Linked DNA regions of Homo sapiens. The protein of the gene in region 1 purifies or fractionates together with the protein of each later gene. This does not show direct contact. Each region holds a gene or a part of one and is shown in the gene's direction. Other genes may lie near its edges.

Region 1 (3,500 bases):
ATCCTGGCACTTCCTCCCTCCTAGGCCTTACTTTTCTCTGTCTGAACCATGGCTGTTGAACTGGGTGATTCTTAGCCACAGGAAGGGAGGGCCTAGATCTTCCCTAGTTTTGTGAGACTCTGCAGCTGGACAGCCATCCCTTCATGGGAGCTGCCACATTTTCACTCTCGGGGCCTCTGACAGGCACTAGGATCTAGGGACATGGCCGGCATGTGAAACCCTGGGCTGCTATGGCCAGGTCACCTCCTCAGGTCCTGGTGTTTCAGAGTGATAAAGAAGAAAGGGTGATTATGTCTCAAACATTTCATTGAGAAACCTACACTGTTCTTTTTTTTTTTTTTTTTTTTTTTGACATGGAGGCTCACTCTGTCACCCAGGCTGGAGTGCAGTGGCGCGATCTCAGCTTACTGCAGCCTCCTGGGTTCAAGCGATTGAACCCAGGGTTCAACCTCCTGGGTTCAAGCGGTTCTCCTGTCTCAGCCTCCCGAGTAGCTGGGATTACAGGCACCCATTACCACACCCAGCTAATTTTTGTATTTTTTAGTAGAGACAACGTTTCACAATGTTGGCCTGGCTGGTCTCGAACTCCTGGCCTCAGGTGATTGGCCCACCTCAGCCTCCCAAAGTGCTGGGATTATAGGCGTGAGCCACCGTGCCCAGCCAGAAACCTACACTCAATTCTAAAGCATTTTATTTCATCCTTCTTGGCTAGTTCTTCAATTATCAGTGCTTCTTTCACTCAATGGTAAATGGATTTTCCATGAGTCTTGGAGGTGGCAGGCAGGGAGAAGGGGCAGAAGGAAAGAGAAAGAGAGAACAGATGTTGGCTTTATGTTTGGAATAAAATTACACCAAAAGCTAAGAACATTTATATTTGTGCTTAGAGAAACCCCATTTCATTTCAGAAGCTCAATGCCTGGATTTTTTTGCCAGCACATTTTACACTTGTATGTTTCTCCTTGTACTCTGTGCCTCCATGTATTTCTGTTGGTCCCTTGAAAACAAGATCCAATCATCACAGGGTTAGTGCTCTGCCCTAGGTCACTCCAGTAGGGGTCCATCCTCCGGATTTAGATCTCAGGTTGGCACTTATGCAAATGCTTTCTGACAGGTCCCCTTTTTTGTGTAATCTGCTTTTTCTTTGAGGATCTAGATACCTCAGCATTCAGGGACAGTAAACATCTTAGAACTTGCCTTAGCTGTGGTCTTGCCTCTCATTAGATACACAAAGAAAAGCCTTGTTTATTTTGGAGAAGGAATTGTTTTGTTATTTTAAGCCTTAGGGCCTTGTGGTTAGAGCTACCAATAGTAGATTGGCTTCATTATGGTTTTGAAAATGATCACTTTCACAAGTAAGAACAGGCTGTCTTAGTGGAGAATATTAGAACAGAGACTCAAACTTAACTGAAAGTTGTTTTCTGTCACTGTGCCGCTTAGGGAATTCTCAGTGCGGTGATAAATATTCATGGACTTCCCAAGTGTTGTGTGTGCCTGGAGGCCAGTTTTTCACTTGTTCCAATTAACGGCAGGCTGCCTCCACACAGGAAGTGAAACCAGCCTTTAAGCCTTTTTACAATTCTGGCACATGATTTGAAGATTTGGTGATGAAAGCAATGTTCTTTGAAAGTTTTGGAGCAAATAAAAAAAAGAAGCTTTTTAGATTCACTCTTAGTTTAAAAAATAACCACTTGGGGAGTTGAAAGATGTAAGTTCTCATCCTAGCTTTGAGAGGAACCTGCAGGGACAGCTGGGGTATAGTGTGTCCTCCTTCTAAAACTCCACATCCTCACTTGTCAAATGGGAAAGCAGATGGATGATTCTAGGCCCCTTTGGGGCAGAACACTGATTCCATCTAAAGGGGAGAGGTGGGAAGGGATACTTTCTCCCATGCCGTTTGGGACACAGAGCCTCAGCCTGAGTTTGACCCTCAGCCCTGTGCGTGACTCTCGGTGTGAACTTTCTTAGACATCAGCCCAGAAACGGAGATGGAGGCTGTGTGAAGAGTTTCATTAAAAATGAGTGATGCAGCCAGGTGCGGTGGCTCACGCCTGTAATCCCAGCACTTTGGGAGGTCAGGGTGGGTGGATCACCTGAGGTCAGGAGTTTGAGACCAGCCTGACCAACATGGTAAAACCCTGTCTCTACTAAATACAAAAAATTAGCCAGGCGTGGTGGCGCATGCCTGTAATCCCAGCAACTTGGGAGGCTGAGGCAGAAGAATCACTTGAACCCAGGAGGCGGAGGTTGCAGTGAGCCGAGATTGTGCCACTGCACTCCAGCCTGGGCAATAACAGTAAAACTCCGTATCAAAAAAAAGAGTGATGCTAGTGGGTTCTTTGCTGTTGACAGTTGCCATTCCCTGCCACCTGGGCTGTCTGTTCCTCCAGTAAGTACCCCCTCCAACTCTGGGGCAATAGAATAGTCTGGAAACATGGAGGTATATTTCTGAGAATATTGGATCTCCCCAAACACATATGACCTCTTCCTGCTAAATCTTCTGAGAGACAGAGGGATGGACTAAGCTTTTTCCGGGGTGGATGGAGTGGGGCATATCCCCCCTGAGGGGGAACAGCAGAATCTTCAGGATCAGGGAGAATGATGTCATTTTCAAAAGTTTATTCATTCAATATTATTATGTCATTTTATAATTGGAAATTTAAAAAATATTTTGTGATATAAACTGTAGAATGCAACGCTCTTAAATATTCTGGCTGGGAAGATAAGGATAAAGACAATGATTCATGACAGGGGTTCTCAAGAAGAGGTATGCTTCAGAACTACCTAGGAAGCATTTTCGCAAGGTAGAAGCTCAGGTTCCCAGGACCCGTGGACTCAATCTTTGGGGCTGTGGCCCTGCCTTGTGTATGTCCAAGCTATTCTGTGCCACCTCTTTCGTTACACTCCACTGATGCAGTATATCTGATGTCTGATTCTTGGGCAGTGGTGGGGAGCCTCTCTCTATTACCCCATCCCAGGAGGGGTATGTATCAGAACCTGGCCATTGAGGGTAGGAGTAAGCTAATTATGCTTATCCAAGGGAGGTGGCAATTCCTAGACAAAGTGAGAATGTTGAGCTGGATGATTCATTAAGCCAAGTGCCCTTAGGATTTTAGGACCTGTTGGTGGAAAGAGATACAGCTAATCAGGTGGGCCAACCAGTAAATAGTAAGGCCTTTCCCTTTTTACCATTATATTTTTTCCTCTCAGCTACTCTTTATACTCACATCTTATTATAAAATATTTAGGATACACAAAAGGATTTAACAGGTAATAAAACTCGCCTGTGTACTCACTACTTGACGTAAGAAGTCAGACATTAACACTACAGTGGAAGTCCCCGGTCGTTCCTCTCTCCAGTGTCATCCCCTCACTCCCACCCAGAGAAAACCATTATCCCACATTGGGTGTTTCAATTCCCATGCATGTCTTTATCCTTTGATCATGATTGACATGATTATGTTGGTAACACTCTATAGTGTTGTTTTGCACCATGTCAGTTA
Region 2 (3,500 bases), on another chromosome or scaffold:
GGTTTAGTTTTTGCTAACTAGCAGTCTAGGTTTCAACCAGGCAGCCGGGCTCTAAAGTTCTTAGAACATGTTTGCATGCTGTACTATGCTTCTCCCACAGGATACTAACTTAAACTGTGGTGGAGCATGTCATTATTTAATGTTTTGAAATCTGTAAATTTATTTCTAAAATCTGGATTGTGGGAACACTGAAAGAATATCCTCGCTAAAGAATGAAAATGGGCCAGGCATATTGGCTCACGCTTGTAATCCCGACTACTTGGGAGGCTGAGATGGGAGGATTCCCTGAGCCCAAGGAGGCCAAGGCTGCAGTGAGCCATGATCAGGCCAGTAAACTCCAGCTTGGGCAAGAGAGTGAGGCCCTGTCTCAGAAAAAAAAAAGAAAGAAAATGGAGGAGAGGAGGTCTAAATCAACAATTACAGATGAAGTCAGATTAAGTACAAATCTGTAAGGGATGTAAAGCATTTGAATTAACTAGAAAGATGGTATTAAACTGAGGATACTTTTTTTTTATAAGTGAGACGGAGTTTCACTCTTATAAAAAGTAAAGGTTGTTCAAAGAGATTTTCCTCCCCATCTAATTAGAAATAGATAATAATTTCTCTTAGAAGCAAAATTTATTCAAAGAGCTGTGCTAACATTCTTAAATATCTGCTAGGCCGGGTGGGGTGGATCACCTGAGGTTGGGAGTTGGAGACCAGGCTGACCAACATGGAGAAACCCCATCTCTACTTAAAAATACAAAATTAGCTGGGGGTGGTGGTGCATGCCTGTAATCCCGTCTACTTGGGAGGCTGAAGCAGGAGAATGGCTGGACCTCGGGAGGTGGAGGTTGCGGTGAGCCAAGATCGCACCATTGCCCTCCAGCCTGGGCAACAAGAGTGAAACTCCGTCTCAAAAAAAAAAAAAAAAATCTACTAGCCGTAGTAAAAAAATCAATGTACTTTATGTTCTTAGCTCCCACAATTTAGCCTAAGTATTTGCCCTAACATGCTTATACTGGTCCAAACAAGCATTAGGTCATAGCCTGTTCCTCTTCCTTATTTAAAGGTGTTTTTACCTTTCTCAACATTCCACAAATTACTTCCTCCTTCCTTTGTTCTCCTCCGCCTTTGCCTCTTTTAAAAAGTTTGAAGTTACTAGCCAATCAAGACAAATCAGAATGTGAAGTCCCATTCCAGCCAATAAAAAACAGACACAACAGTAAGGTAGACACGTCAGATTATAAATGACCCTGTCTCCTTTGTTCAGTGTACTCTTGTGACAAAACTGCTGACAAGCGTACCCTTTCTACAGAAAATAAAAATGGCCTTACTAAAAAAATGTATGTTCAAGTGCTATTTCTTTACAACACCGAGAAACAAACATTTCTAACACTCTTGTCGCCTAGGCTGGAGTGCAATGGCTCGATCTTGGCTCACTGCAACCTCCACCTTCTGGATTCAAGCGATTCTCCTGCCTCAGCCTCTGGAGTAGCTGGGATTACAGGCGCCGGCCACCATGCCCAGCTAATTTTTGTATTTTTAGTAGAGATGGGGTTTCACCATGTTGGCCAGGCTGGTCTCGAACTCCTAACCTCAGGTGATCCACCCACCTCAGCCTCCCAAAATGCTGGGATTACAAGATTTTCAGGATACATTATGAACATTGCTGGGCTGGAGAGTAAGAACATTTTAATTCAGGCTATAGACAGAAAGCATATCCCAAAGAAGGCCTTGGGTGTACTGTGAATTGTAAAATATGGCTCATCTGCTCTAGTTCTCTTAAAATCTTATCTCCAAATTATTAGAAACAATATATTTATTGTGTATTAGATGAGGTGTTCTAAACAAAGTATTTCTGTGTTTCTTTGATTTTGATTTTAATTTGGAGTTTTAAATAATATTTCCATTCAATAGGCAAATCCAGATCCCAACACTTGCCTTGGAGTGTTTGGCCTCAGTTTGTACACAACAGAGAGGGATCTTCGTGAAGTATTTTCTCGATATGGACCATTGAGTGGTGTCAATGTGGTTTATGATCAGCGAACTGGGCGATCTCGAGGATTTGCTTTTGTGTATTTTGAGAGAATAGATGACTCAAAGGAGGTAAATTTGTCTTTTATATGCCTGATTATAGTACTGAATTAGTGTGAAAAGTTGATTAATAGACTTATTTCTGTAAACATTGCATCCTTTTTTCTTCCTTTTTTTCTTTTTTTTTTTTTTAAAGATAGGATCTTGCGTCCAGGCGCGGTGGCTCATGTCTGTAATCCCAGCACTTTGGGAGGCCGAGGCAGGTGGATCACGAGGTCAGGAGATCGAGACTATCCTGGCTAACACGGTGAAACCCCGTCTCTACTAAAAATACAAACAATTAGCCAGGCGTGGTGGCCGGCGCTTGTAGTCCCAGCTACTCGGGAGTCTGAGGCAGGAGAATGGCGCGAACCCGGGAGGCAGAGCTTACAGTGAGCCGAGATTGCGCCACTGTACTCCAGCCTGGGCGACACAGTGAGACTCCGTCTCAAAAAAAAAAGATAGGATCTTGCTGATTTTGCTCTGTTGCCCAGGCTGGAGTGCAGCCTCGACCTCCTGGGCTCAAGCAGTCCTCCTACCTCAGCCTCCTGAGTAGCAGACACTACAAGTGTGGGCCACCATGCCCAGATAATTTTTTGTTGTAGAGATGAGGTCTCACTATGTTGCCCAGGCTGATCTCGAACTCCTGGCCTCAAGTGATCCTCCCAGAATGCTGGGTTTACAGGCATGAGCCATCATACATGGCCTGTTGTGTCCTTTCTAATTTTGACCTGATTCAAACTCTGCCTCTCAGTGTTAACAATTGGAGTGACTACAGTTTCACTTTTTTTGGTTATGCTCTCTGCTATAGGCATATCCTAATTGAAATCTGGCTGTGTAAAGTGAGCTATATGTGTTTAAATTAATGGAAAAAGTATATGTGTAAGTGTTCTCTTTTGAATAAGCCATAATGATGCTCCAAACAGATGATTACATTAACTTTTAAAAAATAATTCTGATGTGTGGGTTTGATATGTTTAATTTTGTGTCTATAATGAGGAAGGAACTTGTTTTTCTATTCTCTAAATGTTCATTTATCAGTGTGTTCAATAATTGAAAAATAGTACATGGAAAGAATTGATAATTTTTTAGTGCTATTCTTAACTTGCCTAACACAATGAACTAATCAATGTCAATGACTTGAAATAGTGCTATTCTAACATGTTCGGTATTATAAAGGAAGTGGTAGGCTTGCTTTAAGTTTTTGCAGGGAGTCTTGCTGTGTTGCTTAGGCTGGTCTCGGAACAACTCCTGGCCTCAACTGTTCCTCCTGCCTTGGCTTCCCAAGGTGCTAGAATTACTGATGTGAACCACCATACCTGGCCTAGGCTCGCTTACTCTTTACTAAAAGTTGATAGTAATTGATTTAGAAAATTGCATTTTAAAGAATTTGAAGCTCAATACTTTTAGTTTTGTTAGACCTTCTGTCTTTTAAATTAATATAT
Region 3 (3,500 bases), on another chromosome or scaffold:
GAAGGGTGGGAAGGAGAAGTCTGGCTACTTGTATCTTGGCCTGGGGATTTGTTTGGAAGATGAATTATCCTCTGGTAGTTGTGTACAGTTTACAGGTCAGTGATTAGTATGAGTCCGTGAATAGTGCCAGTTAATACTGATTAACTGCTGTACTTTTTGCCAATAAATATTGTAAAGCTATAAAGACAACAGAGTTAATACAAGTTGCTAAAGAGAAACTTGTGGTAAATGTCTTTAAATGTTGTTTAAAATAGAAATGGCCAATCTAGCAGGCATGCTGAGGAAATGATGTTTTTGCAGAAGGGAAATTTAGCAATGACAGTTTTGCAGAATATATTGGTAATGAAGTGTTACTTGTAGCTGCTGACAAATTAGTTTTCTTAAAAAATATATCCCCTAGGAAGACTGTAGTATGAAAGAATGAGAACCGTAATTGGTGGATGAGCCTGGAGAGTTTGAAGGTAAGAGAGAAAGAGAAGCAGCGAGGGAGAGAAGGAGAGAGAGAGAGAGAGAGAGTGAGTGTGTGTGTGTGTGTGTGTGTGTTTCAAGGTAACATGCAAGAACAATAAGGTTCTTCTTGTGTGGTTGTAATTTTTTTTTTTTTTTTTTTGAGACAGGGTCGCACTCTGTCACCCAGGCTAGAGCATAGTGGCATAATTATGGCTCACTACAGCCTCGACCTCTGGGCTGAGGTGATGCTCCCACCTCAGCCTCCTAACTAGCTGCGACTACAGGTGTGCACCACTGTGCCCAGCTAATTTTTGTATTTTTTGTAGAGATAGAGTTTCCTCATGTTGCCCAGCCTGGTCACAATCTCCAGGGCTTAAGCTCTGCCGTCCTTGGCCTCTCAAAGTCCTGGGATTGCAGGCTTCCACCACCGTGCCCGGCCCTTGTGTGGAATTTTTAAAAAATCCTGACTTATCTGTTTGTTTGTTTGTTTGTTTTTTTTTTTTGAGACAGAGTTTTGCTCTTGTTGCCCAGGCTGGAGTGCAATGGCGTGATCTCAGCTTACCACAACCTCTGCCTCTCACGTTCAAAGTGATTCTCCTGCCTCAGCCTCCCAAGTAGCTGGGTTTACAAGCGTGCGCCACCATGCCCAGCTAATTTCGTAATTTTAGTAGAGACAGGGTTTCTCCATTTTGGTCAGGGTGGTATTGAACTCCCAACCTCAGGTGATCCGCCCACCTCAGCCTCCCAAAGTGCTGGGATTACAGGCGTGAGCCACTGCGCCCGGCCTATCCGCACTTTTTTTTATGATTGCTCACATGTGACATGTCTTGTTTTTCTTCTAGGATGTTGAGAAAGAGAAGGAAACCCACAGTTACCTCAGCAAAGAGGAGATCAAAGAGAAAGTTCATAAATACAACTTAGCAGTCACAGACAAGTTGAAGATGACCTTGGTAAGCACTCAAAATACTATTTAGGTTGACACCTGTCAAAAGACAAATATAAATTGTTGGTACTACAATCTATAGTTCTAAATATCTGAATAGCATTTGTAGAAGTGTAGTAGTCAAGGTATACAGAACAGGAAAGTGGAATATTTCTGTGGCTTTCCATTTAAATCTGTATTGTGAAGTAGCTTTGTCTCAAAAATCAGTTGCTGGGTTAACCTTAAAAAAGTGAAACACTTATAATTTTATTTTAAAAGATTTTGTGACCCACCCCTCCCTCCTCAAAGGATTTTTAGCATCATTGCCTAACATACAGAAATGGTGACTCAGATTCTAAGAAGACCTCAGGTAAGGTTTTTTGTTTTGTTTTGTTTTGAAACAAGGTTTTGCTCTGTCACCTGGGCTGGAGAGCAGTGGCACGATCACCGCTCACTGCAGCCTCGACCTCCGGGCTCAAGTAATCCTCCCACCTCAGCCTCCCGAGTAGCTGGGACCACAGGTGCTTGCCACCATGCCCAGCTAATTTTTGTATTTTTTGTAGAGACGGGGTTTTGCCATATCACCCAGGCTCATCTCAAATTCCTTGGCTCAAGGGATCTGCCCAGCTTGGCCTCCCAAAGTGCTGGGATTACAGGTATCAGAAGCCCCTAAGTTTTTGTCTTGTACAAAATAAATATGGAAGTGTCAGGGAAAGGATTTTGAGCCCATGGATTGGAATATAGAGGTATATAATAGGATAGTTTTCTCTGCCGGTCGTTAGTGTAAGACAAGGTACTTAATACTCAGTTTCTTCCACGTCGCTGTCGCAGGCTTCCACAGCATTGTGCCACACTGAAGCATGCAGGGAGTCGGCGTACAGGAGGGAGAAGCCTCAGGGCCTGGGGATAGGGAAACGAGCTGACAGCGGAGCTAGAGTATTCATGTTCCTCTAAACTTAGCTGGCATCTAGGTCTCGCCTACCCATTGGGTGGCCCGCCTTCTTCATGGCACTTGTCAGCCCTTGGCGCCAGTTTCCAGGGCACTTGGATCCCCGTCTCTCAGTCTGTTTACTGTGAACTGACAGAGTTTGGTAAAGGACAAGGTGATTGGTTTAAAACAGGCCCTACCGAATCGGTGATTCTTGGGGAGGAGCTTTCAGATAGAAACCCTTGTGGTAAAGGACCCCTCCCTGGTAGAACTCCTCCAAAAAGAGGGGAGAGGAGCAGAGAATCCCAAGATAACTCTTCATCATTCCAGCAGCAAGATTTCTTTTTCAAACACATTTTTTCATCAAAGGAGAAATCCACTTGCTATGTTTTTTTTTTTTCCTTTCCTGATAGAGACTAAAACAGATACAAATTATCCATGTCATTTTAAAGATAAAAATTTTAGGCTGGGCACAGTGGCTCACACCTGTAATCTCAGCATTTTGGGAGGCTGAGGCGGGTGGATCACTTGAAGTCAAGAGTTCGACGGTGGCTCACGCCTGTAATCCAGCACTTTGGGAGGCCGAGGTGGGCAGATCACGAGGTCAGGAGATCGAGACCATCCTGGCTAACACAGTGAAACCCTGTCTCTACTAAAAATACAAAAATTAGCCAGGCGTGGTGGCGGGCGCCTGTAGTCCCAGCTACGCGGGAGGCTGAGGCAGAAGAATGGCGTGAACCCAGGAGGCAGAGCTTGCAGTGAGGCAAGATCGTGCCACTGCACTCCAGCCTAGGCGACAGAGCAAGACTCCATCTCAAAAAAAAGAGTTCAAGGCCAGCCTAGTCAACATGGCAAAACCCCATCTCTCCTAAAAATAGAAAAATTAGCCAGGCATGGTGGCGGGTGCCTGCAGTCCCAGCTACTCAGGAGGCTGAGGCAGGAGGATCACTTGAACTCAGGAAGTTGAGGCTGCAGTGAGCTGTGTTCGTGCCACTGCACTCCAGCCTGGGTGAGAGAGTGAGACCCTGTCTCAAAAAAGAACAAACTAGAGAATTAGGATTGAAAATTGATCTTGTGGGAAGGAAGAAAAATAACACACCATAAAGATAGTTTTAAATGTTCTACTTTAACTGTGGCATTTATATGTAACACTTGACAGTTTAATAAAACAGTACAATAAATCTTTTCTAAATATACTGT
Region 4 (2,783 bases), on another chromosome or scaffold:
GCCTGGGGAGACAGGGCAGGGAGCAGGCTGAAGGGTGCTGACCTGATGCACTCCTCAAAGCAAGATCTTCTGCCAGACCCCCAGGAAATGACTTATCAGTGATTTCTCAGGCTGTTTTCTCCTCAGTACCATCCCCCCAAAAAACATCACTTTTCATGCACAGGGATGCACCCACTGGCACTCCTGCACCTCCCACCCTTCCCCAGAAGTCCACCCCTTCCTTCCTCACCCTGCAGGAGCTGGCCAGCCTCATCACCCCAACATCTCCCCACCTCCATTCTCCAACCACAGGGCCCTTGTCTCCTCTGTCCTTTCCCCTCCCCGAGCCAAGCCTCCTCCCTCCTCCACCTCCTCCACCTAATACATATCCTTAAGTCTCACCTCCTCCAGGAAGCCCTCAGACTAACCCTGGTCACCTTGAATGCCTCGTCCACACCTCCAGACTTCCTCAGGGCCTGTGATGAGGTCTGCACCTCTGTGTGTACTTGTGTGATGGTTAGAGGACTGCCTACCTCCCAGAGGAGGTTGAATGCTCCAGCCGGTTCCAGCTATTGCTTTGTTTACCTGTTTAACCAGTATTTACCTAGCAAGTCTTCCATCAGATAGCATTTGGAGAGCTGGGGGTGTCACAGTGAACCACGACCTCTAGGCCAGTGGGAGAGTCAGTCACACAAACTGTGAGTCCATGACTTGGGGCTTAGCCAGCACCCACCACCCCACGCGCCACCCCACAACCCCGGGTAGAGGAGTCTGAATCTGGAGCCGCCCCCAGCCCAGCCCCGTGCTTTTTGCGTCCTGGTGTTTATTCCTTCCCGGTGCCTGTCACTCAAGCACACTAGTGACTATCGCCAGAGGGAAAGGGAGCTGCAGGAAGCGAGGCTGGAGAGCAGGAGGGGCTCTGCGCAGAAATTCTTTTGAGTTCCTATGGGCCAGGGCGTCCGGGTGCGCGCATTCCTCTCCGCCCCAGGATTGGGCGAAGCCTCCCGGCTCGCACTCGCTCGCCCGTGTGTTCCCCGATCCCGCTGGAGTCGATGCGCGTCCAGCGCGTGCCAGGCCGGGGCGGGGGTGCGGGCTGACTTTCTCCCTCGCTAGGGACGCTCCGGCGCCCGAAAGGAAAGGGTGGCGCTGCGCTCCGGGGTGCACGAGCCGACAGCGCCCGACCCCAACGGGCCGGCCCCGCCAGCGCCGCTACCGCCCTGCCCCCGGGCGAGCGGGATGGGCGGGAGTGGAGTGGCGGGTGGAGGGTGGAGACGTCCTGGCCCCCGCCCCGCGTGCACCCCCAGGGGAGGCCGAGCCCGCCGCCCGGCCCCGCGCAGGCCCCGCCCGGGACTCCCCTGCGGTCCAGGCCGCGCCCCGGGCTCCGCGCCAGCCAATGAGCGCCGCCCGGCCGGGCGTGCCCCCGCGCCCCAAGCATAAACCCTGGCGCGCTCGCGGCCCGGCACTCTTCTGGTCCCCACAGACTCAGAGAGAACCCACCATGGTGCTGTCTCCTGCCGACAAGACCAACGTCAAGGCCGCCTGGGGTAAGGTCGGCGCGCACGCTGGCGAGTATGGTGCGGAGGCCCTGGAGAGGTGAGGCTCCCTCCCCTGCTCCGACCCGGGCTCCTCGCCCGCCCGGACCCACAGGCCACCCTCAACCGTCCTGGCCCCGGACCCAAACCCCACCCCTCACTCTGCTTCTCCCCGCAGGATGTTCCTGTCCTTCCCCACCACCAAGACCTACTTCCCGCACTTCGACCTGAGCCACGGCTCTGCCCAGGTTAAGGGCCACGGCAAGAAGGTGGCCGACGCGCTGACCAACGCCGTGGCGCACGTGGACGACATGCCCAACGCGCTGTCCGCCCTGAGCGACCTGCACGCGCACAAGCTTCGGGTGGACCCGGTCAACTTCAAGGTGAGCGGCGGGCCGGGAGCGATCTGGGTCGAGGGGCGAGATGGCGCCTTCCTCGCAGGGCAGAGGATCACGCGGGTTGCGGGAGGTGTAGCGCAGGCGGCGGCTGCGGGCCTGGGCCCTCGGCCCCACTGACCCTCTTCTCTGCACAGCTCCTAAGCCACTGCCTGCTGGTGACCCTGGCCGCCCACCTCCCCGCCGAGTTCACCCCTGCGGTGCACGCCTCCCTGGACAAGTTCCTGGCTTCTGTGAGCACCGTGCTGACCTCCAAATACCGTTAAGCTGGAGCCTCGGTGGCCATGCTTCTTGCCCCTTGGGCCTCCCCCCAGCCCCTCCTCCCCTTCCTGCACCCGTACCCCCGTGGTCTTTGAATAAAGTCTGAGTGGGCGGCAGCCTGTGTGTGCCTGAGTTTTTTCCCTCAGCAAACGTGCCAGGCATGGGCGTGGACAGCAGCTGGGACACACATGGCTAGAACCTCTCTGCAGCTGGATAGGGTAGGAAAAGGCAGGGGCGGGAGGAGGGGATGGAGGAGGGAAAGTGGAGCCACCGCGAAGTCCAGCTGGAAAAACGCTGGACCCTAGAGTGCTTTGAGGATGCATTTGCTCTTTCCCGAGTTTTATTCCCAGACTTTTCAGATTCAATGCAGGTTTGCTGAAATAATGAATTTATCCATCTTTACGTTTCTGGGCACTCTTGTGCCAAGAACTGGCTGGCTTTCTGCCTGGGACGTCACTGGTTTCCCAGAGGTCCTCCCACATATGGGTGGTGGGTAGGTCAGAGAAGTCCCACTCCAGCATGGCTGCATTGATCCCCCATCGTTCCCACTAGTCTCCGTAAAACCTCCCAGATACAGGCACAGTCTAGATGAAATCAGGGGTGCGGGGTGCAACTG
Region 5 (3,500 bases), on another chromosome or scaffold:
ACCTCAGGTGATCCGCCTGCCTCGGCCTCCCAAGTGCTGGGATTACAGGCGTGAGCCACCGCGCCTGGCTGGAGCCGAAGTTTTTAAATAGTGGGGTGTAAATCAGAAATTTTTAGAAAAGTACAGGTGATCAACAACAAAAAGCAAATGATTCAAAGCAATTTGAGTAGTCAGGAGATAAATTCGTGTTAAAACAGTATTCCTTTTCTTACCTAGCATATTGGCAAAGATAAAGAAAAATAGCAAATTTTTAACAGAGATTCAAGAAAGATTGGCTTTTTTTTTTTTTTTTTTTTTTTCTGGAGATGGAGTCTCGCTCTGTTGCCAGACTGGAGTGCAGTGGTGTGATCTCGGCTAACTGCAACCTCTGCCTCCCGGATTCAAGCGATTCTCCTGCCTCAGCCTCCCGAGTGGCTGGGACTACAAGTGCACGAGATTGGCACTTTTTAATTCGCTGTTGATGGAAATGTATAAGTTAAAAAAAAACCTTCCTCTGCAATTTTTGTTTTGTTTTGTTTTGTTTTTGAGACAGAGTCTTGCTCTGTCATCCAGGCTGGAGTGCAGCGGCACGATCTCAGCTCACTGCAACCTAAACCTCCAGAGTTCAAGCGATTTTCCTGCCTCCGCCTCCTGAGTAGCTGAGATTACTGGCAACCGCCACCACAACCAGCTAGTTTTTTGTATTTTTAGTTGAGACAGGGTTTCGTCAGGTTGGCCAGGCTGGTGTCAAACTCCTGACCTCAAGTGATCCACCTGTCTCGGCCTCCTAATGTGCTGGACTTAACAGGCATGAGCCACCGTGCCCAGCCCCTCTGGAGTATCTTGATAGTATGTGGGTTTTTTGTTTTTCTTTTTTTTTTTTTTTTAACCGAGTTTCGCTCTTGTTGCCCAGGCTGGAGTGCAGTGGCGCAGTCTCGGCTCAGTGCAACCTCCGCCTCCTGGGTTCAAGTGATTGTCCTGTATTTTTAGTAGAGACGGGGTTTCACCATGTTTTCCAGGCTGGTCTCGAACTCCTGACCTCAGGTGATCCGCCCGCCTAGGCCTCCCAAAGTGCTGGGATTACAGGCGTAAGCCATCGCATCCGGCCCTTCTTTTTTCTTTTTAAGCATTAAAAATGTGCATACTCGGGCATGCGCAGTTTCTGTGGGAAAACATGTTCCTTAACTAAAAGGCAGCACATTTGCAACAAATAATTTTTCCCTCAAACAAGGACACTTGGGATAGGAAGAAGGGCAGAGCTGAGGACAGGTCTGATCCTGTTCAACTTTACTAAGAACCTGTTTTCTGCACTTCTACTTCCACAGCTCAGACAAGAACAGAACCTCTTCTGCTTGGGGGTGGGGCAGGGCTGTCTTGTGCGGAATGGCCTCATTCCTGGATTAGGAAGTGTTCCTAAGTAGTGAGGTGTCTCAGATGTTTATAAAGTGACCACTTGTGTAGTGCTCAGGGCATTGTTGCTTCTGTAAAGTGCGTATCATTTGATCTCATGCTGTAAATGATTCTGTCTTCAGGGCGCAAACCAGAAGAAGAGGGTGTGGAAGATAACGGGCTGGAGGAAAACTCTGGGGATGGACAGGTATGTGCAGCCTTGCGAGTGAGTAGCGTGGTGGATGGACCAGTGGCGGTCACATGATGGTTCGGTCTGGTTGTGTCACAGGAGGATGTTGAGACCAGTCTGGAGAACTTGCAGGACATCGACATCATGGATATCAGTGTGTTGGATGAAGCAGAAATTGATAATGGAAGCGTTGCAGATTGTGTCGAAGACGATGATGCTGATAACCTCCAGGAGTCCCTGTCGGATAGTAGAGAGCTAGTCGAGGGGGAAATGAAAGAGCTTCCGGAGCAGCTTCAGGAACATGCTGTAGGTAACCGGCAATGTCTCTAGAATGTGCCCTGAATGTATCAGTTCCACAATTAAAATAGGTGATCAGTTTCATATTGGGAAGTAAGTTGTTCTGTAATGCCAGTTCAGTAGAATAAGGGTCAGTTGGTTCAGATGATTCTGAACCAATTTGTTTTGTTGAAAGGTGATGTCTTATAACATTTCATATGTACTTGCTATCCATTTGCGGCATACAGTATGAGACATTTTGAGGACAACCATTCAGACTCTTCCTGTTGCCGGACTTGATCTGTGGTGTTATGGCCTAGGTACCTTGAAAGCATTGAACTAGGAAGAGGTTAGAAGTTGGTGTTTTCCTGTTAAGAAGCAATTGTTGAGCTGGGTGCCTTGATGCACTCATGTAATCCGGTAACTCAGAAAGCTGAGGTGGAAGGAGCAGCCCAGGAGTTCAAGGCTGTACTAAGCTATGATTGTGCAATTGAAGTCCAGCCTGGGTGGCAGAGTCTGACAGAACCCTATCTCTTGTTTAAAACAAACAAACAAAAAAAAAAACACAGCCAGTTGATACCTATCTTAAGAGTTAACCTCAAGTATTAACCTGGATGTTGTTTTTAAACCTAAATTTTTTTCCTGTTAGAAACATATCAAATGGATAGTAAGATTATAGTGGGTAGTATTTCCTGAATACTACCTACCAGGCATTGGCATTATGCCCTTCCTTTCTTTTTTTTTTTTTTTTTTTTTTTTTTCTGAGACAGAGTTTTGCTGTTGTTGCCCAGGCTGGAGTGCAGTGGCGCGATCTCAGCTCACTGCAACCTCTGCCCCCTGGGTTCAAGTGATCTCCTCCCTCAGCCTCCCAAGTGAGTAGCTGGGATTATAGGCGCCCACCACCAAGCCCGACTAATTTTCTTGTATCTTTAGTAGAGACGGTTTTCACCATGTTGGCCAGGCTGGTTTTGAACTCTTGACCTCAGGTGATCCGCCTGCCTCAGACTCCCAAAGTGCTGAGATTACAGGTGTGAGCCACCGCGCCCAGCATGTGCCCTTTAATTCTTCTAATAGCAACATGAGGTGCTGTTGTCCCCATTTTCAGTTGAGGAAATTGGGAAGGCAAGAACTAAAAAACATCTCCAGATGACACACAGCTCATAACAGAATAAGAACTAAGATCAGGCTAATTCCAGAGGCCATGTACTTAACTTATGTACGATGTTGTCTTGGTGCCATTAATTTGATATTAATTTCATTTACCTGATGATTAATGTTTGTCAGACAGAAAAAGTGATGCATATGAGAAGCTGTGGGGCCCTTTCTGTGTTGGCTCGTGGGGGGCCCTGTTCTTGTCCTGGTCCTTAGGTCTTCCGCAGTGAGTGCTTCTCAAGCAGTCTTGGTGGACAGAAACCTTGTTGTATGCCAGTCAATCCGCTTCTGCATTTCTTCAGAATATTTTTGCATTTCCTCTTGGAACTGATTCCAAGTATCCTTAGAGGTAGCAGATTGTCATATTTGAATGGAGGATTTGAGTCTGAGAAGTGGCTGAGAGTTATTCTGATACAAATAGGGTGTGCAATTTTTGGTGAGTCCCATTCATCAGCTTCTAAAAAGGAGTAGCAGAAACACTTGCACAGCAGCAGGAGTTACTTACCCTTCCTGA
Region 6 (3,500 bases), on another chromosome or scaffold:
TTTTTTTTGTTTTTTTTAGTAGTGGGGGTTTCACCATCTTGCCCAGGCTGATCTTGAACTCCTGACCTCGTGATCCACCCACCTCGGCCTCTCAAAGTGCTGGGATTACAGGCGTGAGCCATCGTGCCCGGCCCCAATTTTTTATTTTTAGTAGAGATGGGGTTTTGCCATGTTGGCCATGCTGGTCTTGAACTCCTGACCTCGTGATCCACCCACCTCGGCCTCCCAAAGTGCTGGGATTACAGGCGTGGGCCATCGTGCCTGGCCTCAATTTTTTATTTTTAGTAGAGATGGGGTTTTGCCATGTTGGCCATGCTGGTCTCGAACTCCTGACCTCAGGTGATCCCACCTTCCTCGGCCTCCTAGAGTGCTAGGATTACTCGGGTGATCCACCGTGCCAGGCCTTAATGTTTTTTTGTTTTTTGTTTTTTGTTTTTTTTTTAAGATGAGGTCTCGCTATGTTCTCTAGGCTGAAGTGCAGTGACTATTCACAGCTGTGATCATAGTTCATTACAGACTCAAATTCCTGGGCTCAGATGATCCTCTTGCTTCAGCCTCCCAAGTAGCTAGGACTGAACAAGGTGTAAGGCCCTCTGTTCCTGGTTTAAATTTATCTTCACCTGTTACCCAGGCTGGAGTGCAGTGGTGCAATCTCGGCTCACTGCATCCTCCTGCCTTCAGCCTCCCCAGCAGCTGGGACTATAGGTGTGTGCCAGCATGCTGGCTAATATTTGTATTTTTTTTGTAGAGACGGGGTTTTGCCACCTTGCCCAGGCTGGTCTCGAACTCTGGCCTTAAGTGATCCACCTGCCTCGGCCTCAAAGTACTGAGATTACAGACATGAGCCACCACACCCAGCCTGTAATTATATAAACATTAAAGTGTTATTAAGTGTTAAATATAACTTAGTGCACCTAACTTTTTTGCAGAAGAAATAAATTCATTTCTTCCCTTCCCCCCAGTTTTATGTTTTGAAATACATTTTTAAAAAAAGTTTTGAGAGACAGGGCCTCTGTCACCCAGGCTGCCAGGCTAGAATGTAGCGGTGGCATCATAGCTCACTGTAACCTCTAACTCCTGGGTTCAAGCTGTCCTCCCACCTCAGCCTTCCAAGTAGCTAATCCAAGTAGCTAGGATTACAGGCACGCACCACCACACCCAGCTAAGTTAAATTTGTTGTTGTTGTTGTTGTTGTAGAGACAGGGTCTCACTATGTTGCCCAAGGCTGGTCTTGAACTCCTGGCCTCAAGCACGTCCCCTGCCTCAGCCTTCTAAAGTGTGAGTGGCAGATGTGAGCTACCATGCTGGGCCTTGGAATAATTTCAGATTTACTCTTCCACATTTTGCCACATTTGCTTTATCATTTGAATGTTTTTAAAATGTGTATATATAATGTTTTCCTGAGCCAGAGAGTTACAGTCTAGACATCATGTCTTTTCTCCTAGGTATTTTAGTGTGTAGTTCCCAAGAACAAAGACATGCAGTTACATAACCACAGTGCATTTATCAAAATCAGGAAATTTAATTGACACAATGTTGTTACCCACAGATCTTATTCAGACTTTATCAGTTGTCTTAATGTCCTTGATAGCAATTTTTTTGTGGTCCAAGTTCTAGTCCACGAACATTTGGAGACCGTGGTTTCATGTCTCCTAAGTTGTTATTTGTTGTTTTCATTGTTTTGAGATAGGGTCTCATTCTGTTGCCTAGGCCAGAGTGCAGTGGCACGATCATGGCTCACTGCTGCCTTCATCTCCCCGGGCTTAAGTGATTTCCCAGGTTGCTGGGACTACAGGTGCATGCCACCACACCCAGATAATTTTGTGTGTGTGTATGTGTGTATGTATGTATTTGTAATGTAAGACAAGGGCTTTGCCAGGTTGCCCAGGCTGGTCTTGAACTCCTGTGCTCAAGCTATCTGCCAGCTTCCGCCTCCCAGAGTGCTGGGATTACAGGAGTGAGCTATTGCGCCCAGCCCTCCTAAGTCTGTCTTCACTGGTTTCAAGTCTGTCTTCACTGGTTTCAAGTGAGGTTGTATCCTTCTCAGTGCATCATACTGGGAGGTACAAGATGTCTGTTTATGCCATTACTGATAATGTTAACTTTGGTCACTTTGGGTAAAGTGTTGTCCACCAGGTTCTCCACTTAATTTTTTTTTTAATACGTGGGAAAATAGTTGACACTATGTAAATAACTTGTTTCTCATCAAACTGTCTCCTTTTAATTCTAGCATTGATAATTCTTGCTTGATTCAGGTATTACTATGATAGGTGTTTACTTACCATTAATATTACGTAATGCTCAAGTCACAGATTTGGCCAGTGGGAGGTCCTTCAAGAAGGAGCCTACTGATGCCCTGGCTTCCCACTCTGTTTCCAATCTATACTTTTCCTTCTCTTTTTTTTTTTTTAATGATGGGGTCTCATTTTGTCACCCAGGCTGGAGTACAGTGGTGTGATCAGGGCTCACTACAGCCTTGACCTCCTGTGCTTAAGCCATCCTCCCAGCTCACCCCCCAAGTAGCTGGGACCACAGGCACATGCCACCACCATGCCTAATTAAAAGATTTTTTTTTTTTTTTTTGTAGAGACAGTGTCTCCATATGTTGGCCAGGCTGGTCTTGAACTCCTGGCCTCAAGCAGTCTTATCTGCCTTGGCCTCCCAAAGTGTTGGGATTACAGGTGTGAGCCACCACTTCTGGCTGTTTTGGTATTGTTGTGTTAAAATTGAGAAAGTTTGACTTTTGAAGCAATATTGAACATAGGTATTTGTGAGACTTAAAATTGCACATTATAAAGAGGAACAAATTTGGTGTTTAAAGAATGAGACAGTGCTGTAGTAAATATAATTGCATGATGCTGTTTTGAATTTTTTCTTGACTATTTTAAATGCTATTAAGTATGCCAACTAACTTAAATATAAACATGTTTCTTAGGAAAAAGGACATCTATAGTCTAAGTTTCTAATTCAGTGTTACAATTTGGGACAAATAATTTATTGTCTGTATTTCTGGAGTTACATTAAGAGATAATAGGTGGAATTTCATTTTATTTATTTTTATTTTATTTATTTATTTATTTATTTTTTGAGATAGAGTCTCGCTTTGTCGCCCAGGCTGGAGTGCAGTGGCACGATCTCGGCTCACTGCAAGCTCCGCCTTCCGGGTTCACGCCATTCTCCTGCCTGAGCCTCCTGAGTAGCTGAGATTACAGGTGCCTACCACCACGCCTGGCTAATTTTTTGTATTTTTAGTAGAGATGGGGTTTCACCGTGTTAGCCGGGATGGTCTCGATCTCCTGACCTCGTGATCCGCCCGCCTCGGCCTCCCAAAGTGCTGGGACTACAGGCGCGTGCCACCACGCCAGCTAATTTTTGTATTTTTAGTAGAGACGGGGTTTCACCATGTTGGCCAGGATGTCTCACTCTCTTGACCTCATGATCCACCTGCCTTGGTAAAAATGTAAAATTTAAAAAATTCTGAGGCCGGGCGCGGTGGCTCA
Region 7 (3,500 bases), on another chromosome or scaffold:
AAGCTGTGTGCAGGTATGAGGCCTTGGGTCTGCCAGTGTCTGGGGAGGTGAGGCTGGGCATGGGTGTGAGACCCTGGGTCTGTCCATATCTGAGGAGGTAGGATCTGGTATGAGTATGAGGATCTGGGTGTGTCCGTGTCTGAGGAGGTGGGCCCTGGCACAGGTATGAGGCCTGGGGTCTGTCCGTGTCTGAGGAGGTGGGCCCTGGCGCAGGTATGAGGCCCTGGGTGTGTCCGTGTCTGAGGAGGTGGGCCCTGGCACAGGTATGAGGTCCTGGGTCTGCTGGTGTCTGCAGAGACAGGGCCCGACATCTCAGGGAAGACCACGGTAAGCTCTTCAGTTTGTCTTGTGGCTGTGGTCAGTCATCTGTAGTCTGCCCTGTTGGTCTTCCCATGTGTTGCCAGCACCTGCCTGCTGCCTTGCTTCCTGGAGGTGGGTTGGGCCAGGGCCCTCCGAGACGCCCCTGTGCAAGACCAGGGACAGGGTTTCCGGCAGGAGGTGGGGGGCGGGGTGTGCCGGCCCTCCCTCAGCACCTTGTCCTGTCTCTCCTAGTGGGTGGGAGGACGCTACTCGCTGTGGTCGGCCATCGGACTCTCCATTGCCCTGCACGTGGGTGAGTGTGTTTCTGTGTCTTGCAGCCCCTGTGGGAGACAGTGTTGCAGTCTAAGGTCGGGGTAGGGGGCTTGTGTCCCTGAACATCATGCTGTCCTCACAGGCTGCTGGCCTCTCTGCAGCTGGCTGGGATATTTATTTCATGTCCAGAAGGAAGGTCTGGGTTTTTTTGCGTGTGCAAGTTGGCCCCCGTCTTTGCCCCTCACAACTGCAGTCCTGTTTCTCTCCTATCCTAGGCAGAGTCAGATCCCTGCACTCAGGGCCACCTCTCACTGGAGGGGCTTTGTCTAGGTCCGAGTCCTCCCATGTCGTATCTTCTGGCTCTCCATGCAGCCTTCCTTCGTTGCAGAAGGAGCTGTGCCCACTGCCCACAGGACGCAGGGTGTGGCCACTTCTGTTGACTCTGCTTTTGTGTCACAGGTTTTGACAACTTCGAGCAGCTGCTCTCGGGGGCTCACTGGATGGTGAGTGCTGAGGCTGGTTCTCTGCCAAGTGCTGGCCAGAGGCGCGTGTGTTGGTCCTGGTCCCCCGCTTTCTCCCCCACTGTCCTGTCCCTCCCCTCCCCGTGCAGCTGCTCAGCTCCCACTCATCCTGCTCCTGTTTCAGGACCAGCACTTCCGCACGACGCCCCTGGAGAAGAACGCCCCCGTCTTGCTGGCCCTGCTGGGTATCTGGTACATCAACTGCTTTGGGTGTGAGACACACGCCATGCTGCCCTATGACCAGTACCTGCACCGCTTTGCTGCGTACTTCCAGCAGGTACCAGCTGCCAAGCCAGGCCTTGGAGTCAGCAAGATTTGTGGGGGGTCTGGGAGGTCTAGGAACCTGGGTTTCAGCTCCTCCAGGAGCTCTTTGCCCCATTGCCCTTGGGCCTGGCCAAGGTCCATCTGTGCTCCTTGTCTCAGGATGAATCTTTGTAACTGAGGTTGGTTCCATTTGAGTGTCATCTGAGTTTGATCACCATGGGAGGGGCATGACTGGTGATCATGGTGCCCTGGCTAGGGAGGTCCTGGCTTGACTCAGGGGATGTTTCTCAGCTGGGGTCACTTCTTTCTTGCACATCACTATGCATGCCTACCATAGTGTCTGAGGACGTAGGATCTAGCCCTGGTATGAGGCCCTAGGTCTGTTAGTATCTGGGGAGGAAGGATCTGGTACAGGTATGAGGACCTGGGTCTGTCCATGTCTGAGGAGGTGGGATTTGGCCATAGGGTGGGGCTGCAAGCTGGAATCCCTTATAGCCTGCACTGCCTTTATCCCTCCAGAAAAGCAAGTGTGTATCTAGTCTGTGGTGGCCTCTTTGGACTACATGGCCCTCTTCTCCCTTGGGATCTCCAGAGCCCCCCGAGAGGCTTAGCAGGCCCTCTCCTAGTCACATTATGTCCCAGAAAGCTTTTCCACACCTGTCCCTGCTTTTTTTTTTTTGAACAGATTCTCACTCTGTTTCCCAGGCAGGAGTGCAGTGGCGCGATCTCGGCTCATTGCAACCTCCGCTTCCTGAGTTCAAGCAATTCCTGTGCCTCAGCCTCCCGAGTAGCTGGGATTGCAGGCATGCACCACCTTGCCTGGCTAATTTTTGTATTTTTAGTGGAAACGGGGTTTCACTATGTTGCCCAGGCTGGTTTCGAACTCCTGGCCTCAAGCGATCCACCTGCCTTGGCCTCCCAAAGTGCTGGGATTACAGGCATGAGCCACCATGCCCAACCCTATCCTTGCTTTTGTTTAGTACAAAGCCAGTCCCTGTCCAGCAGCTCTTGAGTTGCTCTGGGCAGGTACAGAAGGCTTCACCAACACCTGGAAGCAAATCCTGTGACTGAAGGAGAGGCCAAGGTTCCCCAAATCCCAGCTGCCTTGGTGAGGGTTGCCATGACCAGGGCCCAGGTGGGTACCCAAAGCCTAGCATTTAGTTGTGGTGACAGCCCTCAAAGGCTGTACTCTTAGCCAGGCATGGTGGCTGATGCCTGCAATCCCAGCACCTTGGGAGGCAGAGGCTGGGGGGAATTGCTTGAGCCCAGGAGTTCAAGACCAGCCTGGGCAACGTAGTGAGGCCCGGTCTCTACAAAAAAAACCCACAAAAACTAACAGTAGCCAGGCATGGTGGTGCGGCACCTATAGTCCCAGCTACTTGGGAGGCTGAGGCAAGAGGCTTGCTTGAGCCCAAGAGGTCGAGGCTTCAGTGAGCAATGATTCTACCACTGTACTCCAGCCTGAGTGACAGAGTGAGACTCTGTCTCTTTGGGAAAAAAAGAAGCTGTGCACTCTGGACCCCAGCCTGCTCTCCCTTAAGAAATGAGCTGATTTTGTGACCGATTTTGTCTTTAGGGAGGTCCTTGCCTGACCTCCAGACCCACCTTTTCCTGGGCATGAGTCCTTCCTGCACAGTGGCTTAAGCAGGAAAGGTTGGGAGGCTGTGTCCTCACTGGTGTGGGGAGGAAGGGGATCGTGCCTGTGGACACGTGTGCAGGTCCACCTCACGGTGTCAGGGCAGGGTGGGTCTGCCTGGAGCATCTGGGCAGGACTTTGGCATGGTGCAGGAAGGAGCAGGATTTGCGTACAGTGTGTGAAGGATCAAGACTTGCAGGAAGAGGGTTGGGTTTTTTTTCTTTCTTTTCCTTTCTTTTCCTTTTTTTTTTTTTTTCTTTTTTTTTGAGTTGGAGTTTTGCTCTTGTTGCCCAGTCTGGAGTGCAGTGGCATGATCTCGGCTCACCACAACCTCCGCCTCCCGGGTTCAAGCGATTCTCCTGCCTCAGCCTCCCAAGCAGCTGGGATTACAGGCATGCGCCATCACACCTGGCTAATTTTGTATTTTTAGTAGAGACAGGGTTTCTCCATGTTAATCAGGCTGGTCTCAAACTTCCAACCTCAGGTGATCCGCCTGCCTTGGCCTC

Evidence for each region.
Region 2: the proteins of MERTK (region 1) and TRA2A purify together in Homo sapiens (affinity purification with mass spectrometry; one large-scale study listed by BioGRID and IntAct). This does not show direct contact.
Region 3: the proteins of MERTK (region 1) and RASSF3 purify together in Homo sapiens (affinity purification with mass spectrometry, with the first as the bait; one large-scale study listed by BioGRID). This does not show direct contact.
Region 4: the proteins of MERTK (region 1) and HBA1 purify together in Homo sapiens (affinity purification with mass spectrometry, with the first as the bait; one large-scale study listed by BioGRID). This does not show direct contact.
Region 5: the proteins of MERTK (region 1) and SAFB purify together in Homo sapiens (affinity purification with mass spectrometry; one large-scale study listed by BioGRID and IntAct). This does not show direct contact.
Region 6: the proteins of MERTK (region 1) and YTHDF2 purify together in Homo sapiens (affinity purification with mass spectrometry; one large-scale study listed by BioGRID and IntAct). This does not show direct contact.
Region 7: the proteins of MERTK (region 1) and GPI purify together in Homo sapiens (affinity purification with mass spectrometry; one large-scale study listed by BioGRID and IntAct). This does not show direct contact.

Annotation. Positions count from the first base shown.
Region 1 is NC_000002.12:111,905,107-111,908,606, forward strand, and holds part of MERTK (tyrosine-protein kinase Mer precursor), read left to right. Parts: intron 1-3,500. UniProt on the Homo sapiens protein: Receptor tyrosine kinase that transduces signals from the extracellular matrix into the cytoplasm by binding to several ligands including LGALS3, TUB, TULP1 or GAS6.
Region 2 is NC_000007.14:23,511,482-23,514,981, reverse strand, and holds part of TRA2A (transformer-2 protein homolog alpha), read left to right. Parts: intron 1-1,899; coding exon 1,900-2,088; intron 2,089-3,500. UniProt on the Homo sapiens protein: Sequence-specific RNA-binding protein which participates in the control of pre-mRNA splicing.
Region 3 is NC_000012.12:64,683,495-64,686,994, forward strand, and holds part of RASSF3 (ras association domain-containing protein 3), read left to right. Parts: intron 1-1,292; coding exon 1,293-1,400; intron 1,401-3,500.
Region 4 is NC_000016.10:175,240-178,022, forward strand, and holds HBA1 (hemoglobin subunit alpha), read left to right. Parts: upstream 1-1,440; 5' UTR 1,441-1,477; coding exon 1,478-1,572; intron 1,573-1,689; coding exon 1,690-1,894; intron 1,895-2,043; coding exon 2,044-2,172; 3' UTR 2,173-2,283; downstream 2,284-2,783. UniProt on the Homo sapiens protein: Involved in oxygen transport from the lung to the various peripheral tissues.
Region 5 is NC_000019.10:5,640,083-5,643,582, forward strand, and holds part of SAFB (scaffold attachment factor B1), read left to right. Parts: intron 1-1,511; coding exon 1,512-1,576; intron 1,577-1,657; coding exon 1,658-1,864; intron 1,865-3,500. UniProt on the Homo sapiens protein: Binds to scaffold/matrix attachment region (S/MAR) DNA and forms a molecular assembly point to allow the formation of a 'transcriptosomal' complex (consisting of SR proteins and RNA polymerase II) coupling transcription and RNA processing.
Region 6 is NC_000001.11:28,764,440-28,767,939, forward strand, and holds part of YTHDF2 (YTH domain-containing family protein 2), read left to right. Parts: intron 1-3,500. UniProt on the Homo sapiens protein: Specifically recognizes and binds N6-methyladenosine (m6A)-containing RNAs, and regulates their stability. M6A is a modification present at internal sites of mRNAs and some non-coding RNAs and plays a role in mRNA stability and processing.
Region 7 is NC_000019.10:34,392,696-34,396,195, forward strand, and holds part of GPI (glucose-6-phosphate isomerase), read left to right. Parts: intron 1-552; coding exon 553-613; intron 614-1,032; coding exon 1,033-1,076; intron 1,077-1,218; coding exon 1,219-1,371; intron 1,372-3,500. UniProt on the Homo sapiens protein: In the cytoplasm, catalyzes the conversion of glucose-6-phosphate to fructose-6-phosphate, the second step in glycolysis, and the reverse reaction during gluconeogenesis.